Homo sapiens: one gene and its partners. The protein of the gene in region 2 purifies or fractionates together with the protein of the main gene of each other region. This does not show direct contact. Each region holds a gene or a part of one and is shown on either strand. Other genes may lie near its edges.

The links.
Region 1: the proteins of KERA (region 2) and PRKCI purify together in Homo sapiens (affinity purification with mass spectrometry; 2 studies listed by BioGRID and IntAct, with this or other methods). This does not show direct contact.
Region 3: the proteins of KERA (region 2) and STK11IP purify together in Homo sapiens (affinity purification with mass spectrometry; 2 studies listed by BioGRID and IntAct, with this or other methods). This does not show direct contact.
Region 4: the proteins of KERA (region 2) and UBR1 purify together in Homo sapiens (co-immunoprecipitation; one large-scale study listed by IntAct). This does not show direct contact.
Region 5: the proteins of KERA (region 2) and MAP3K7 purify together in Homo sapiens (affinity purification with mass spectrometry; 2 studies listed by BioGRID and IntAct, with this or other methods). This does not show direct contact.

The regions. Positions count from the first base shown.
Region 1 is NC_000003.12:170,298,912-170,302,433, forward strand, and holds part of PRKCI (protein kinase C iota type), read left to right. Parts: intron 1-83; coding exon 84-199; intron 200-3,522.
Region 2 is NC_000012.12:91,052,496-91,055,034, reverse strand, and holds part of KERA (keratocan precursor), read left to right. Parts: intron 1-2,539. UniProt on the Homo sapiens protein: May be important in developing and maintaining corneal transparency and for the structure of the stromal matrix.
Region 3 is NC_000002.12:219,600,844-219,604,365, forward strand, and holds part of STK11IP (serine/threonine-protein kinase 11-interacting protein), read left to right. Parts: intron 1-391; coding exon 392-597; intron 598-797; coding exon 798-872; intron 873-1,144; coding exon 1,145-1,240; intron 1,241-1,624; coding exon 1,625-1,732; intron 1,733-1,861; coding exon 1,862-1,933; intron 1,934-3,522. UniProt on the Homo sapiens protein: May regulate STK11/LKB1 function by controlling its subcellular localization.
Region 4 is NC_000015.10:42,945,702-42,949,044, reverse strand, and holds part of UBR1 (E3 ubiquitin-protein ligase UBR1), read left to right. Parts: intron 1-3,343. UniProt on the Homo sapiens protein: E3 ubiquitin-protein ligase which is a component of the N-end rule pathway. Recognizes and binds proteins bearing specific N-terminal residues that are destabilizing according to the N-end rule, leading to their ubiquitination and subsequent degradation.
Region 5 is NC_000006.12:90,549,069-90,552,590, reverse strand, and holds part of MAP3K7 (mitogen-activated protein kinase kinase kinase 7), read left to right. Parts: intron 1-411; coding exon 412-542; intron 543-2,041; coding exon 2,042-2,123; intron 2,124-3,522. UniProt on the Homo sapiens protein: Serine/threonine kinase which acts as an essential component of the MAP kinase signal transduction pathway. Plays an important role in the cascades of cellular responses evoked by changes in the environment.

The DNA of each region.
Region 1 (3,522 bases), on a different chromosome or scaffold from region 2:
AACAATGAGTGCAGAGGAGAACTGTAGAGGTGGAGTTTTTCTAAGAATACAGACTTGAGCTGTCATCCAGTATGTCTTTTCAGATGGAGCAAAAACAGGTGGTACCTCCCTTTAAACCAAATATTTCTGGGGAATTTGGTTTGGACAACTTTGATTCTCAGTTTACTAATGAACCTGTCCAGCTCACTCCAGATGACGAGTAAGTAATTCTGTACACTGAAATTTTTTTTTAAGTTCTTTGGAAATCCCATTTTTAGTGACTATGCAATGTTTCATTATCAGATTATACTATAATTTTTTTATTTTCTATTTTATTTCATTTTATTTTATTTTGAGATGGAGTCTCGCTCTGTTGCCCAGGCTGGAGTGCAGTGGTGCAATCTCGGCTCACTGCAACCTCTGCCTCCCAGGTTCAAATGATTCTCCTGCCTCAGATACCCTGAGTAGCTGGTACTACAGGCGCGTGCCGCCACGCCCAGCTAATTTTTGTATTTTTAGTAAGGACAGAGTTTGCCATGTTGGCCAGGCTGATCTTGAACTCCAGACCTCAGGTGATCCACCCACCTTGGCCTCTTAAAGTGCTGGGATTACAGGCGTGAGCCACTGTGCCCGGCCTATACTATAATTTATACAACCATTCAGTTACTGGTATTTGTATCTACTGTACCATTATAAGTTTTAATAGTAACTGTCATTTTCTCCTTTGCTTTATAGTGCATTATCTTATTTTCACAACAACTTTGTAATCTAGTTACTGTCATCTTCGTTTTACAGATGAGGAAACCAAGGCTCAGAGAGGTTAAGCAAAGTTACACAGCTATCAGGTGGCAGAGTCAGGATTCAAACCCAAATCTGACTGACTAAGGCCTGTGCTCTTTCTACCACGCTGCACTGTTTCCCATTTGACAAGGACTGTCTTTGAGTTCCTGAGTATTGCCTTAAGATAGATTCCTAGAAAGAGAATTAGGTCAGAGGGTATTAACATTTTAAAGCTCTTGTATTGCCAAATTGCTTTTTTTAAGAAATTACATTGAGTTATTAAATCCAGCCATCAGTGATCTGGTATATTTTTTGTGCTTATACTTCATCTTTTAAACATGTAGTTTGGAATAATTGGGAGATATTTTGATTATTTACCTGTTGTTACAGATTCATTCTCTCTAATCTCAGGGAGGCCCTTATTGTTTGGCAGTCATTTCACTTCTATCTCATTTCTTACCACATTTCTCCCAGCACCTGCTCCAAACAGTCTCTTCATTTCAGAAGCCTTCAGTTCTACTCCTTTTTCCATCACTGTTAATGGATTAACCTTGTCTTAATTTGATGCAAGGACTGATAACCTCTCTGACGTGACCTTGCCTCCTTTGCAGCTGTCCCCAGACCACCTTGCATCTCAGAATTGCTTTCTAACTCTTTTCATCATTTTCTTATTCCCTACTCTTGGAAGACTCTCCTTTACAAGGGGTGTCCCTGCTATTTTCCTAGACCTGTTTCCTTAGTTTTCTCCAAGATTTCATTTTGTCAGTTATCTTTTTATTAGACCTTCTTTATTTTTTTCTAGCTTGTTTCCCTCTGTGTAAGCATGCTCAGATACTCTGATTTTTCCCCCTAACTCATGGCCCCTCTTTGAACAACCACGTTTTTCCTCATTTTCATTTCATCTTAAAGCCTCAAAAAAAAAAAAGTTAATAGATGTTCATGGTCAAAGAAAAATAAATACACAGCACCTCTAATCAAACTTCTTCAGACTAGTCAACATTGATTGTCTTGAATTTTTTTTTTTTTTTTTTTTACTGTCAACACTTCAACCCCTTACAATCGAACCTGTCCTCCAGCTTTTGAAGGTTGAATCAATTTCTTAATTTCTAAATTGTAAAGCATTTTGGGGTCAGTCCTCCTCTCCCTTGATTAATGTAAAGCATTTGGTACTCATGGCTTTGCCTTGGGTAGCACTGCCTATTCTGGTTCTGTTTCATCTCTGTGACTACTTTCCTCTCATGTGTTTTCCCTGTCCCCTTGAGACCAGGATGCTCCATGGTTCTGTTCATGACAGCCTTCTTTTTGCTATATGCAGTTTGTACCTTGGAGATTTCAGCCAGCCCTGTAGCATAGATACCAGCTAATTAAATGGCTCTCAGTTAAATGGCAAATGGTTATTGAGCAAAAGGTGTTATGGTAAATACTAGACATTCAAAGACAATCAAGACAGTCTGATCTCCCCAAAAGCGTGCTGTCTACTAGAGGAGAAAGATGTGTACCAAGTCATTATTTCTGACAGCATTGTGTATTAGAAGGAACACTGGATTTAATCAAAAGATAGGAGTTTGAATCCCGATGCCACCTCTTACCAACTGGGTAACCTTGGATAGGAATTGCATAACTTCTCTGAGCCTGTTCTCAAATTGCCTACCTCATAAGGTTGCTGTGAAGAATAAATGCATGATGGTTTCTGAAGCACTTATCCCCTGCCGTTAGATCTCCTGAGCTGCATTTCTGTTTAACACGGCCCCCAGTTTGTCAGCCAAGCAGCTCAAATATATGAAGTCTAAAATGAAAGTAATGACCCTTTATGATCTCTTTCTATTGTTCTCAATCAGTTCCTTTTTTTTTAGTTACCTAATTCTGCTCACGGTGTGTCCCTGTTGTTCAGATTCCAGATGTCAGTGATTGTGGACTCCTCCTTTTTCTTAACAGATTACATAATACCTGCAGCTGCCAAGTCTTTGTCTGTGTTTTCATTATTTCATCATTTACATCAGATCTTTCTTTTCTCTTCCCGTTGACACACCCTAGTTCAGGCCTCATTCAAGTCATACCCAGAGTATTGTATCAGCCTCCTAATTGATCTTTACTCCTTCACTTTGCAACCTATTCTGTATGCCTTGTGAAGTACCACTCCAATTCTTGAACCCCTTTAATTAGAAACCTTCAGTAACTCCTTCATTGCCTATCAGGTAACATCTATCCTCTTGGCTAGCATTTAAGGCCTCCCCACATCTGCTCCAGCCTGACTTTCTAGCGATACCTCTCACCATAATACAAACAGTGTTCTGATCAGTCTTAGCTACTCACCATTCCCTAGTAGTATTATTGTCTCTGCTTCTGCCTGTTCATTCCTGTGTATCCCGCCTTCATTTTTACCTATTGAAATTTTCCCATCTTTCAGAGCCACCTCAGATGCAACCAGATCTTTGATGGATCAAGGTGAAACTCCTTAGTGTAAACATCACTGGCCTCTTTGATTTAGCCATTATTTTTCTTCAGCATCATCTAACACACTTCTATTCCTGTGCTCCACCCTAATTACTTGCATTTCCCAAGACCTACCACAGTCTTTCATCATTCCATTCATTAAGTGTTTGCAGAATGAATACTGCCTTCCTTGATTTCTCCAACTAGAAGTCACACCTTTCTTTAGAACCATGGTTAGAACAGGACTTAGCTTATTGTGTATAAAATTTAACAAGTACTGCTTTCTCTTCCAGTAGGAATTACCTCCCTTCCTTGAAGGAAGGGACTGTA
Region 2 (2,539 bases):
AGTAATAAAGAAAATATGATTTAAGAGGCATTAGGAAGGCATCTTTGTCCTAAACACTATATGACAGCTGATGCCTGAAACCCTCCTAATTGGAGTCTCTAATTAAACTCCGCTAATTACAGTGGGAGTCTCAAACAAGTGTGTAAAGGCTGGTGACTCCACCCCCAGAATTTCTGATTCAGTAGATGTGGAGTGAGACTTGAGAATTTTCATCTCTAACAGCCGTCCAGTTGATGTTCTGGGAACTACACATTGAGAACCACTACTATAGTTTAAGGCTTTATTAATTAAAATGGAAAGAAATTTCCCTGGTAGCTGGCAACTCCTTGGGACTTACAGGCAATCGTCAGGTAGAATACTCTCTCCTTTCCTGAAAAGAGCTTTTCATAAGGGAGTGAGAGATGAATTCAAAGTTTTTGGAGGCAGAGGCATCATCAAGAGAAGAAGTGATTATAGAAAGCAGATGTTGGACACATTAGAGACAAACTTGGCTTCTTCACAATTATGCATGAGACTAGGCTGGACTTGGTGTAAAAATAGGTCCAGCCACAGGGGTACGATACCTAGCCTGGCATTTATCTATGCATCTTCAAACTCAGAGTAGACCCTTTAAAAATAACTCTGGGGAGATTTCTCCAGGACAACCTAAGAAAATGCATTCCAAAAGTAATATTCAGTCAGGATAGTTTGTAAGAGAATAACAAAGATAATTTGTCAAAAGGTTGTGCTGCCTGGGTATTACTCACTAAAGCTTTTTAAGCAAATAATCACATAAACATATCATTTATAGGAACAGACTATTTTTCCACTGGGAACTGCTCAGTTATTTAAGAATTTTTGTTTTTTTGGTGGGGGGAGTTAAATAACAGTGTACTTGAGTCTACAATCCAGGAATTAAATGGCAGCCTGCCATCATAGCGGTTATTTTTCCATGGTGATGAAATGTATTGTTTAATCCTGTAGTCAAAAACAAAAGATGCAACAGAAAAAAAATGTTAAGAGATGAATCTGTTTAGCTGAATCAAATAGAACAACAACAATATTGACCTAAATACATAATTTTTCCTGACGAGTGTTCTGTGCTTCTACAGGTATATTACAGGTACATTCCTTAAAAGCCCCACGGACAATTGATGTGGGAAGTAAACTTCAAGTGACTCCACATAGAGCCCTTGCTTACAAATTATGCATTTCATCCTGAGCATTTGTGAATTAGGGTGTTTAGGAGTGAGGCAGCAGTATTTAAAACACAGTTGAGAAGTATAAGACTTTAGCTTATGGAGTATTATGTGTGTAGTATAGACCCACATTTTAGAGTTTTATCAAAGTGTTTTCTCATAGGTTTCTAATTTTCTATCGTTCTCAAATCTGAGTGTGCATCAGAATCACCTGGAGATCTTATAAACCCAGGTTGCTGTTTCCTACCCCCAGAATTTCTGACTTGCTGGGTCAGAGGTTGGGCCTCACAGTTTACTCCCCAGGTATTAATAGTATTGATGTTGCTGGCTCACGATTTGAGAACTACTATTTAATCCTTGCGAGAAACTTGTGTGATATTATTAGGAATTTCTGAAAGAGAGAAACTGAAGATCAGCTAGGGGAGGATATTTGCCCAAGGACAAAGGGTAAATGCAATAGCCAGAACCTGAGTCTGAAGTGTTTTTTTCACTCATACAGTATAATAACAATACTTTCCTTCATTGTCATGAATACAAATTTTTAAAAAATTCTATCAGTAGAAAAGCAACAAAGAGAAATCTAGTTATTTACTTTTTAATGTAGATATCAAATTTTGTCATTTCAATATTTAAGAAAATAAATATAAGAGTTTCCCTGGAGAGAATATTGATATAATAATATCACACTGTGTCAAAACTGTTTAAGTACTTGCTTCTTCTAGCCACATCATCTACTCTAGTTGTAACAAAGTGGTCTCTAAGAAACATATCTCCTCTATGAAAAGACATCAAAATTTATGAGACAGTGAACTTGTCTTAAGCAATATGATGGAAATATTTATTTTTCTGAAAACTTTCAGGGATTTAAGATTAGGTAAAAATGTTATTTACTCAACTACATTACTTTCTGGTGTTCCCTGAGAAACACTGTAATTTATGAAAATGTAATTAAATTTAGAATACTTCTTTTTTATATTCATTTATTCAGACATACATTGATTATGGGACATGAGCTTGATGAGGATAAGGGGATTGCACATCGAAAGGGACATATTCTTTTGGGCAAGAGACACATTGTAGAATTAGAAAGAATCGGCCAGGTCTCAGCTCTGCCACTTACTTTCTGAAATAAGTTGTGTGCATTTCCTTATTTCTCTGAACCAGAATTCCCACAAAATGCCCAGGTATGTAGAATAATAATATTGGCTGATAAAGCCTGTGAGATGATCAGGTGATACTTGGATGTATGTAAAAAAAGAGAACCTGATTTTATAACAACTAAACTGCTATTCAAATGAGTCATTATTTTTATTAAATTCAGTTTACAAAATGGCATAAATTCAAAGCAAAGCAACCTTGCT
Region 3 (3,522 bases), on a different chromosome or scaffold from region 2:
GGCGGCTTCCTGGAGGAGGCTGGTCTCAAGCTGGGCGGTGGAAGGGGGTGTCTCATAACAAGAGAGAACTGTGAACCAAGCTGGCTGTATTTCCAGCACTGTCAGTAGATGAGGCTCTTTTGAGCAGAAGGTGAAAGAAAATTTGGAAGAGTTGGTTGGAGTTGTGTAGCCAAGCAGTCTCATCAGGCTGAATGAAATGTTAGGACTTTTTTTGAAGATGAGGGGAGCCATTGAATGCTTTTGAGCTGAGAAGGAGATAGAAAATTTGATCCTGCAATAGAAGATCTACAATATGGATTGGAGTGGGTATATTTTGGCATCATAGAGCCTTAGAATAAAGAGAAAAATCTTTTCACTGTGTCTTCCCTCCTGTTTGCCCCTTTTTCTGCAGGGGATGTGGTCCTGTCTGGCTGTAGCACCCTGAGCCTGCTGACTCCCACACTGCAACAGCTGAACCACGTATTTGAGCTGCACCTGGGGCCATGGGGCCCTGGCCAGACAGGCTTTGTGGCTCTGCCCTCCCATCCTGCCGACTCCCCTGTTATTCTTCAGCTTCAGTTTCTCTTCGATGTGCTGCAGAAAACACTTTCACTCAAGGTTCTGGGTGTGGGGAAGAGGCAGGATGTGCAAGGAGCCCAAGAGAATGATGGAAGTTGGGGATAGGGTAGGGGTGCAGAAGTCTGCAGTGCCAGGATCCAGAGGGTGTCAGAGGTACCAGTGGTTGTGCTAAGGAAGGAATGTTGAGGGCAGGAAGATCTGCTGTGCCTCAGTAAATTGAGTTTTTTTTTTTTTTTCAGCTGGTCCATGTTGCTGGTCCTGGCCCCACAGGGCCCATCAAGATTTTCCCCTTCAAATCCCTTCGGCACCTGGAGGTATGGGGACACGGGGGGATGTTGGTGCACAGCACCCAACTTGAGGCAGCCCCTTGGGGATGGGAAAGAGAAGAGCCTCTTTGGTGAGGAGGCCAGGCCTGAGTATACCCATTGCTCTGCAGTCATGTGATATCCACTGTCTTTCCATTTACTGCTTCCCTAAATCATAGCTGGGCTTTGTGGTCTTCTCCCTCCTCCCAACTAGGGGATGGGGATGAGGTCTTTGTCTTCTGTGGGGTTCTGCCTTCCTCCCTCCTCTTTCCTTGTCCCAGCTCCGAGGTGTTCCCCTCCACTGTCTGCATGGCCTCCGAGGCATCTACTCCCAGCTGGAGACCCTGATTTGCAGCAGGAGCCTCCAGGCATTAGAGGTAAGGAGAGTGAGGGGTGAGCTCAGACACCTCAACTTGAGAGATGTAGAAGACCAAGCTCTGATGTTCTCCCCTCTCTGCAGCTCTCCCTGCCTCCTGCTTCCCTCTAGACAGTGTCCTCACTCCCTCTCTGTGTTCCCGCAGCACTCTGTAACTGCCTGTATATTTATAGTCGTACCTACCATATTATATTACATATTCTAGTGTCTACCTTCCCACTGTCCCTACAGTGAGTTCTTGGGTCAGGGACCTGGGCTTTAAGCCTGTATCTTCAGATGGAGTTCAGTGTATAAAAAATGAATGAGTGACTGGGTGGTAGAGCTTGGCCTTGGCATAGGGAGGAAGGGGAGGGTGGGGTAATGAAGCACCCATCTGTCTGCTCAGGAGCTCCTCTCAGCCTGCGGCGGCGACTTCTGCTCTGCCCTCCCTTGGCTGGCTCTGCTTTCTGCCAACTTCAGCTACAATGCACTGACCGCCTTAGACAGCTCCCTGGTGAGTGCCTCAGAGGGAAGAGGGTTTCGAGGAAGGGCAAGGCCAGGCCTTTGGGGAGGAGGGCCAGCTGGTTGACCAGATAGTATTGTAGTGAACATCGATTCTCTGCCTCCTCCCCGTCTCTCTCAGCGCCTCTTGTCAGCTCTGCGTTTCTTGAACCTAAGCCACAATCAAGTCCAGGACTGTCAGGGATTCCTGATGGTGAGTATGGGCAGTTTGGCAGCTGGCACACCATGGGTCTTTGATTGCTCTGCTCTCACTCTCTCTCCTTGACCAGCTTTTACTCCCACCTTGCTCTTGCCATGAGGGTGGAGCTGCATTCTGGGAGATAGCACTGCTTAGACACTAGCATCAGACAAACCAGAGTTCATATCTCAACTTCTAATACCTGTGCAACTTTGAGCAAGTTAGTTACCTCTTGGTTTCTTTACCTGTAAAGTAGAAATCACAAGAGTACCTGGTTTTTTTTTTTTTTTTTTTTTTTGAGATGGAGTCTCGCTCTGTCACCCAGGCTGGAGTGCAGTGGCGCAATCTCAGCTCACTGCAACCTCTGCCTCCCAGGTTCAAGCAATTCTCCTGCTTCAGCCTCCCAAGTAGCTGGGATTACAGGCACGTGTCAACACACCTGGCTAATTTTTGTATTTTTAGTAGAGATGGGGTTTCACCATGTTGGTCAGGCTGGTCTTGAACTGCTGACCTCAAGCAATTCACCTGCCTTGGCCTCCCAAAATGCTGGGATTACAGGCATGAGCCACCACGCCCGGCTGAATACCTGCTTTTATAGTATTAAAATGATTGTGAAGAAGTACCCAATGTTGCTTAGTCTAGTGCCTAGCTCAGAAACTGGTAGCTTTTGTGATTATGATGAAGAACCTTTCTTCTGGGTCCTCCCATCCACCTGTCAGAGATAAAGCCGAACTAGTTAAAGTGGTAAGGACAGATTTTTTTTTTCTTTTTTTTTTTGAGGCAGAGTCTTGCTCTGTCACCCAGGCTAGAGTGCAGTGGTGTGATCTTGGCTCACTGCAAACTCAACCTCCTGGGTTCAAGCAGTTCTCCTGCCTCAGTCTCCCGAGTAGCTGGGATTACAGGTGCCCGCCACCATGCCCAGCTAATTTTTGTATTTTTTAGTAGAGATGGGGTTTCACCATCTTAGCCAGGCTGGTCTTGAACTCCTGACCTCATGATCCGCCCACCTCAGCCTCCCAAAATGCTGGGATTACAGGTGTGAGCCACCGTGCCCGACCAAGTAAGGACAGATTTTTTATCAGTGATAAACTATTGCAGCGGGGAAGAGGGTGCAACCTGAACTGAACGCCACTTCAATTTGTGCAGAGGTGGCTGGGCATTTTAAAAGGAGAGTGAGGGAATAGGAAGGGGAACTGTGAGGGCTTGAGCAGAGTAAGGGAAGTGGAAATGTACGAAAAGCAGAAGTGGAGGTTGATTCACATGAAGCCCTTCTGGGTTTGCTAAAAGTTAGGCTCCTACCTTCCCACAGAGACTGGGAGATGGGAGCCCTGTCATCAGGTGTTGGCTAGAACAAATGGGAAATTCTTTTGGCAGCCTTGACTTTTCCCAGGCAGGAGCTTAAGGGGGCTAGAGTCACCATTCTAGGGATGCATCCTTGAGATATTAGAACTTTGCTGTTTTTGTTCAGGTTTTTTACTGTGGGGGTTGGAGGAGTCAACAAAAATAATTTGTGTTGAATTTTGTTGAACTTGTGCTGAACAAGTCTGCAGTTCTTAACAGGCCAAAGTTGAGGCCTAGTCAAAAAGAAGGCCCAGAGGAGCCTG
Region 4 (3,343 bases), on a different chromosome or scaffold from region 2:
CGTTGTTGGACATTTGGGTTGGTTCCAAGTCTTTGCTATTGTGAATAGTCCCGCAATAAACATACGTGTGCATGTGTCTTTATAGCAGCATGATTTATAGTCCTTTGGTTATATACCCAGTAATGGGATGGCTGGGTCAAATGGTATTTCTAGTTCTAGATCCTTGAGGAATCGCCACACTGACTTCCACAATGGTTGAACTAGTTTACAGTCCCACCAACAGTGTAAAAGTGTTCCTATTTCTCCACATCCTCTCCAGCACCTGTTTCCTGACTTTTTAATGATTGCCATTCTAACTAGTGTGAGGTGGTATCTCATTGTGGTTTTGATTTGCATTTCTCTGATGGCCAGTGATGGTGAGTATTTTTTCATGTGTTTTTTGGCTGCATAAATGTCTTCTTTTGAGAAGTGTCTGTTCATGTCCTTTGCCCACTTTTTGATGGGGTTGTTTGTTTGTTTCTTGTAAATTTGTTTGAGTTCATTGTGGATTCTGGATATTAGCTCTTTGTCAGATGAGTAGGTTGCGAAAATTTTCTCCCATTTTGTAGGTTGCCTGTTCACTCTGATGGTAGTTTCTTTTGATGTGCAGAAGCTCTTTAGTTTAATTAGATCCTATTTGTCAATTTTGGCTTTTGTTGCCATTACTTTTGGGGTTTTAGACATGAAGTCCTTGCCCATGCCTATGTCCTGAATGGTAATGCCTAGGTTTTCTTCTAGGGTTTTTATGGTTTTAGGTCTAACGTTTAAGTCTTTAATCCATCTTGAATTAATTTTTGTATAAGGTGTAAGGAAGGGGTCCAGTTTCAGCTTTCTACATATGGCTAGCCAGTTTTCCCAGCACCATTTATTAAATAGGGAATCCTTTCCCCATTGCTTGTTTTTCTCAGGTTTGTCAAAGATCAGATGTAGATATGCAGCATTATTTCTGAGGGCTCTGTTCTGTTCCATTGATCTATATCTCTGTTTTGGTACCAGTACCATGCTGTTTTGGTTACTGTAGCCTTGTAGTATGGTTTGAAGTCAGGTAGCGTGATGCCTCCAGCTTTGTTCTTTTGGCTTAGGATTGACTTGGCAATGCAGGCTCTTTTTTGGTTCCATATGAACTTTAAAGTAGTTTTTTCCAATTCTGTGAAGAAAGTCATTGGTAGCTTGATGGGGATGGCATTGAATCTATAAATTACCTTGGGCAGTATGGCCATTTTCACGATACTGATTCTTCCTACCCATGAGCGTGGAATGTTCTTCCATTTGTTTGTATCCTCTTTTATTTCATTGAGCAGTGGTTTGTAGTTCTCCTTGAAGAGGTCCTAAACGTCCCTTGTAAGTTGGATTCCTAAGTATTTTATTCTCTTTGAAGCAATTGTGAATGGAAGTTCACTCATGATTTGGCTCTCTGTTTGTCTGTTATTGGTGTATAAGAATGCTGGTGATTTTTGTACATTGATTTTGTATCCTGAGACTTTGCTGAAGTTGCTTATCAGCTTAAGGAGATTTTGGGCTGAGACAATGGGGTTTTCTAGATATACAATCATGTCATCTGCAAACAGGGACAATTTGACTTCCTCTTTTCCTAATTGAATACCCTTTATTTCCTTCTCCTGCCTAATTGCCCTGGCCAGAACTTCCAACACTATGTTGAATAGGAGTGGTGAGAGAGGGCATCCCTGTCTTGTAGCACATAATTTTCAACAACTTCTCCAAAATTTGAAGGTAGTGTTTCCCCAAAATTTTTAAAGACACCAGCCATCTTAATGTTTCAGTGTTCTATTGTTTGTAATCAACCTTTCTTCAGAACTACTTAAAAGGATTGACACTGATAGTATAAGTTTGTAGTGTCCAGTGATGAAGTTTGTTTTAGAGATATTGTTTCCATTGCAATACTTGAAACTTTTTTTTTCTTTGTTTTTTGAGACAGTCTCTCACTCTGTCACCCAGGCTGGATCTCGGCTCACTGCAACGTCTACCTCCAGGGTTCAAGCGATTCTCCTGCCTCAGCCTCCCAAGTAGCTGGGACTACAGACATGCACCACCACACCCGGCTAATTTTTTTTGTATTTTTAGTAGTGACGGGGTTTTACTGTGTTGGCCAGACTGGTCTCGAACTCCTGACCTCAGTTGATCTGCCCACCTTGGACTCCCAAAGTGCTGGGATTACAGGCATGAGCCACTGCACCCAACTGAGACTTTTTATTAGCCAGCTATATCAGCCTTCTTTCCTTCTGAGCATTAACAAAATATTTAGAATCCTGAACTTTTCTGTATCCTTCCCTGGTGGTAGGAACTGGGGTCCTACTGATGACTTATGAAAATGAGGAGACTGACAGTGATCTCAAAAGTACATATAGATAAAGATTAGACCTCCTTACAATAAACTCTTTTTGGTTCACTGAAATTTTGTTCCTTTGAAATATTGCTCAGAAAGAATACACTTATTAGATGGGGCTTGGGACCTTGGATCACACAGAGCTTTCTTTTTATTGGGATGACATTTGACCTGTCTTTAGGTTTAGGGAGAAAAGCAGAGTGGTGAAAGTAGTTAATGACTGAGAATCTTAGTTGTTCCACAAGGGTACAAAGCAGAGTTTTAACATTAATTTGGCAGTTTAAAAATCCCCAACCAGGCGGCCGCGGTGGTTCACGCCTGTAATCCCAGCACTTTGGGAGGCCGAGGCGGGCGGATCACGAGGTCAGGAGTTCGAGACTAGCCTGGCCAACATTGTGAAACCCCGTCTCTACTAAAAATACAAAAACAATTAGCCAGGTATCGTGGCGGGCACCTGTAATCCCAGCTACTCTGGAGGCTGAGGCAGGAGAATTGCTTGAAACTGGAAGGCAGAGGTTGCCCTGAGCCGTGATCGTACCACGGCACTCCAGCCTGGGCAAAAAGAGCGAAACTCCATCTCCAAAAAACAAAAACAAAAACAAAAAAAATCCCCAACCAGCTGAGAGACTTGAATGTCTCAAGGAATTAGGATCTCACAGTTCTCCGTTACTGGCAACAGCCAGACTTAAGTCATTTTGGATTAGCTGTTATACAGTGTTAAAAACTGTGCAACTCTAGAATTGAAGTATAATTATTTTATTAAATTATTTGCTAATAACCAGCCAGTTTTTTGTATCGTAAGGACAGTTACAACCAAATATCTCTGAGTAGCAAAATATAATTTTAGGGCCTAGTGTTATACGTCAGGCCTAACCTCTACTGTGCAAAGATCATAAATTGAAGCTAGATAACAATATGAAGCCAAAAAGCTATTCAAGCTAACCACCAAAAAAGAATAGTGCTGCTTCAAGTTATAAACCTCAGTGACCATTTAAGTGAGGTCCCATAATGCCATAATAT
Region 5 (3,522 bases), on a different chromosome or scaffold from region 2:
ATTATTCCACAAGTCTAAAAACAAATGTCTGCCTAATTATTTAGGTCATTCATAGATTTATCAAACAGTACCATCATCTGAGTAATCTTAGCTGTTTTTACCAGTTTCCTATACTGCCTTTAATATTACTACCATTAGTATCATTGTGGAGACTGTTCAGCATTGACCAGGACAGCTTGCTTGCTTGCTTTCTATCAGTTGTCAGTAAATAATTGAACGTCCGTGAAGTAAAGAGTAAAAGAACTAACTTGTTAATTGATAAAATTACAAAGCACTTTTATTACTCCAAATTACAGATCTTAAACTACAAGATCTATAAAATAAATACCACTTTGGAAATACGTACAAAGAGTTTGCATCATTCTTTGGGTAAATACATTCTTCCCCCCTTCCTCTCATTTTCAATTGTAGGTACTCGACCACCACTGATAAAAAATTTACCTAAGCCCATTGAGAGCCTGATGACTCGTTGTTGGTCTAAAGATCCTTCCCAGCGCCCTTCAATGGAGGAAATTGTGAAAATAATGACTCACTTGATGCGGGTATAATCCTTCTTTTGAGGGGCTTTGGATTTAGGGGAATTTAATATGTGCTGAGTTTTAATGGAATTTTAAAAGGGATGTTATTACTATATTCTGCTTTATATATTGCTATGTTTTCTAAGTGAGAATGGGCATTTATTACTCATAGTCAGAAGAGGAAACATTTCGAGAGGGAAAATCTAGTTCTTTATCACTGGAAAGATGGCTAGACTAGGTTTCTAGACTTGCTTTTTTCTTTTTGCTTACATTAGTGGACAAGTATGTTTGTCTCTGGGCCTGTTGCCTCATTTGTAATGTGGGAGAAACTGAAATAGATAGTCTCTAAAGCCATCACAGGACTTGGATATATTAATATTATGACTTCAATACATGATAAACTAAATTTTACATTTTTCTGATACCAATTTTCATCAAGCATTTAGTCATTTATGCAAGGCAATAGGTTGCATTCTCAGACACATTTATTTGAGTGACTTTTACTATTTGGCCTATTTTCAGGTTTTTATATCCCAGTAAAAAGTTAAACTTTCTTCTATTTAGAAGAACCCTTTTAAATGATTATCAAATTTTCCTAGTCTGTGAATCAAGCGCCTTTAGAATTATTTGGAATATTTTACGCCTCTGGTTTTTGGTACATTAACAAAAACTGTGAAGTGGTATCTTGGCTTTAAAAAGTTCAAATATCTATGAAAGTGCCTGAATTTTGAAACAGTTTGTTCAGTAGAAGAATCTTACAATCTCCTTAAATATAGACTAAGTAATTTCCTAAATGGTAAAACGTTGTTTATTCAATCTATTGAAAATTTCTTACGCAAAGCAGCTTGAACTAATCTACTAAAAGTTTACCATCGTATTTGGATACCAGTCATATATAGAAGCCTAGGCCTTAAAGGTGTGTGCATAAGAAAACAACTTAGTCTCTGTAGTCAGATTACTTAAAACTTTAGGATATATAAGTTATTGCAGTTGTAATTTTGCTTCTCTGTTCCTTGTCTAATTTGAGGAGAATACGTTTCCTTTTTTTCTCTAAATTCTAACATTTTTGTCCAGCAGATACTTTGAGTATTATGCCTCCAGTTTGTAGAAAGACATTCATAATCTATCCTCTTAATATTTAAAATGTTCTAACAATTATTCTATGGTATACTAGTCTCAGTCTTCAGACTAACAGTCACTGGAAGTTTACATCACTACTGTAAGAACATGAGTATGTTTTACATAATTATGAGAAATGATACTATTTTATTTCATATGTTTCTCTAGAGAAATATTTGCTGTTTTCTTCAAGACTATCTAGACTCCAATGTAAGCTAGATTCTTAGGTAGGTGCATGGCATTGATCAAAGTTGAAATCCAAGAGTACATTATTGTAATCTTTGTAAAATAAAAAACTTAGGCACCTACAAATTTAGTATATAACTTAGGGAAAATAAAACATTAATCAGGATTTAATTTGTATTAAGGAAATTTTAAGCTGTGGTTTACTTTTTTATATATAGTACTTTCCAGGAGCAGATGAGCCATTACAGTATCCTTGTCAGTATTCAGATGAAGGACAGAGCAACTCTGCCACCAGTACAGGTAAATGGATAGATTGGAAGAGTATTGACTTGATTTTTCTTTCATCTCTATTCCCATGAAATTATAATCAAGAAGTAATGAATAATGTCCCCATTTGCATTTTAATTCCTTCATTTCATATGATTGACTGCAATTTGAGTTTACAGGTGCGTCATTCTTCATGTAGGTACCCTGATTAAAGAGTTATTGAAGACCTGCTTCCAAGTCTTAGAATTCCTACATAATTATGAATAAAAAGATGGCATATTGTATTACAGTGAATGTCATTCTTAACTTGAAAAATCACTTTTACATGCATACTACTAGATCAAGTAGTATTAGAAATTATTGTAAATGTATTTAAACATTTCTTCATCACGAACACCCTAGTTTTTGTTCTCTTCTACAGAGGCTCTGATTTAAGAAGCTATGTTAAAAGTTCCTTAGTTTTCCGAAATGTGAAGTAGTAGTGGGACATGTAATTTGTGGTCATCAAAAAGATAGTAGAAATAATACTGTAACTTAGAAATATTGTACTTCTCAAAATATAGTGGCATTATAAGCATTTCATTATTAATTGAAACTTAAAGATATGTGTGTGTCTATATGCACATGTATTTACCCTGCATTTATTGAAAAATACTTTTACTGATCTATTTCTCCCACCTCAAGAATAGTTTTATTTATTTTAAGATGGTTACTGCTTGGCTAGTTATTCTCAAATTCCAGTTTTACTGAAAATATTTTGAGTTGCTCTGAATTCTAAAATGTACTTCTCTAAAATTCTATCATTTGTGTCTCCCACGTCCTCTAAACTCTCTCTTCATTTCCTTACTGTGACCTTGAATTTTTTGAGCCTCCCACCTTTTCACTGGTCCTCAGTCCTCTTAGGTCCTTTTTTCTTTCTCCCTCCACTTAATTCCAATCAACTATTATAATTCTTTTGGGAATAATTTTCATCTTTCTAGCCTCTCTCTCAAGCTTGCTTGGCTAAACCACAAGCCTAATGAAAGCTGACACTCGGCTTACTCCTTGCCTGTACCAATGCAGCTGAGTGTGGCTGGAGATAGCACAGGTTTACTATCCTCACGTGCATGTTTAGTGCTATTGGACAGTTGTACTGTATTGTAGTTCATCTCTTTCCTCCTATATGTCTTAATTTTATACTGTAGCCTCTCCTCAGACTTCAAACACCTCCTCGCCACTCCTCACTCTCAGCTGATCTTGTTTGCTCTTTCTCTGAGAAAATTGGAGTAATCGGAAGACAGCTTCCACAACATCTGTGCCCATCTACTCTGCTTTCTTCTGTTACTCTGGCTAAACTATCCATACTTCTGGCCAAAGGTGTACCTTTCTGCCTGTGCATTATATCCCATCTGCTCCTCTGAGCAATTCTCCCCTGTCTCTTGCATCATCAGTT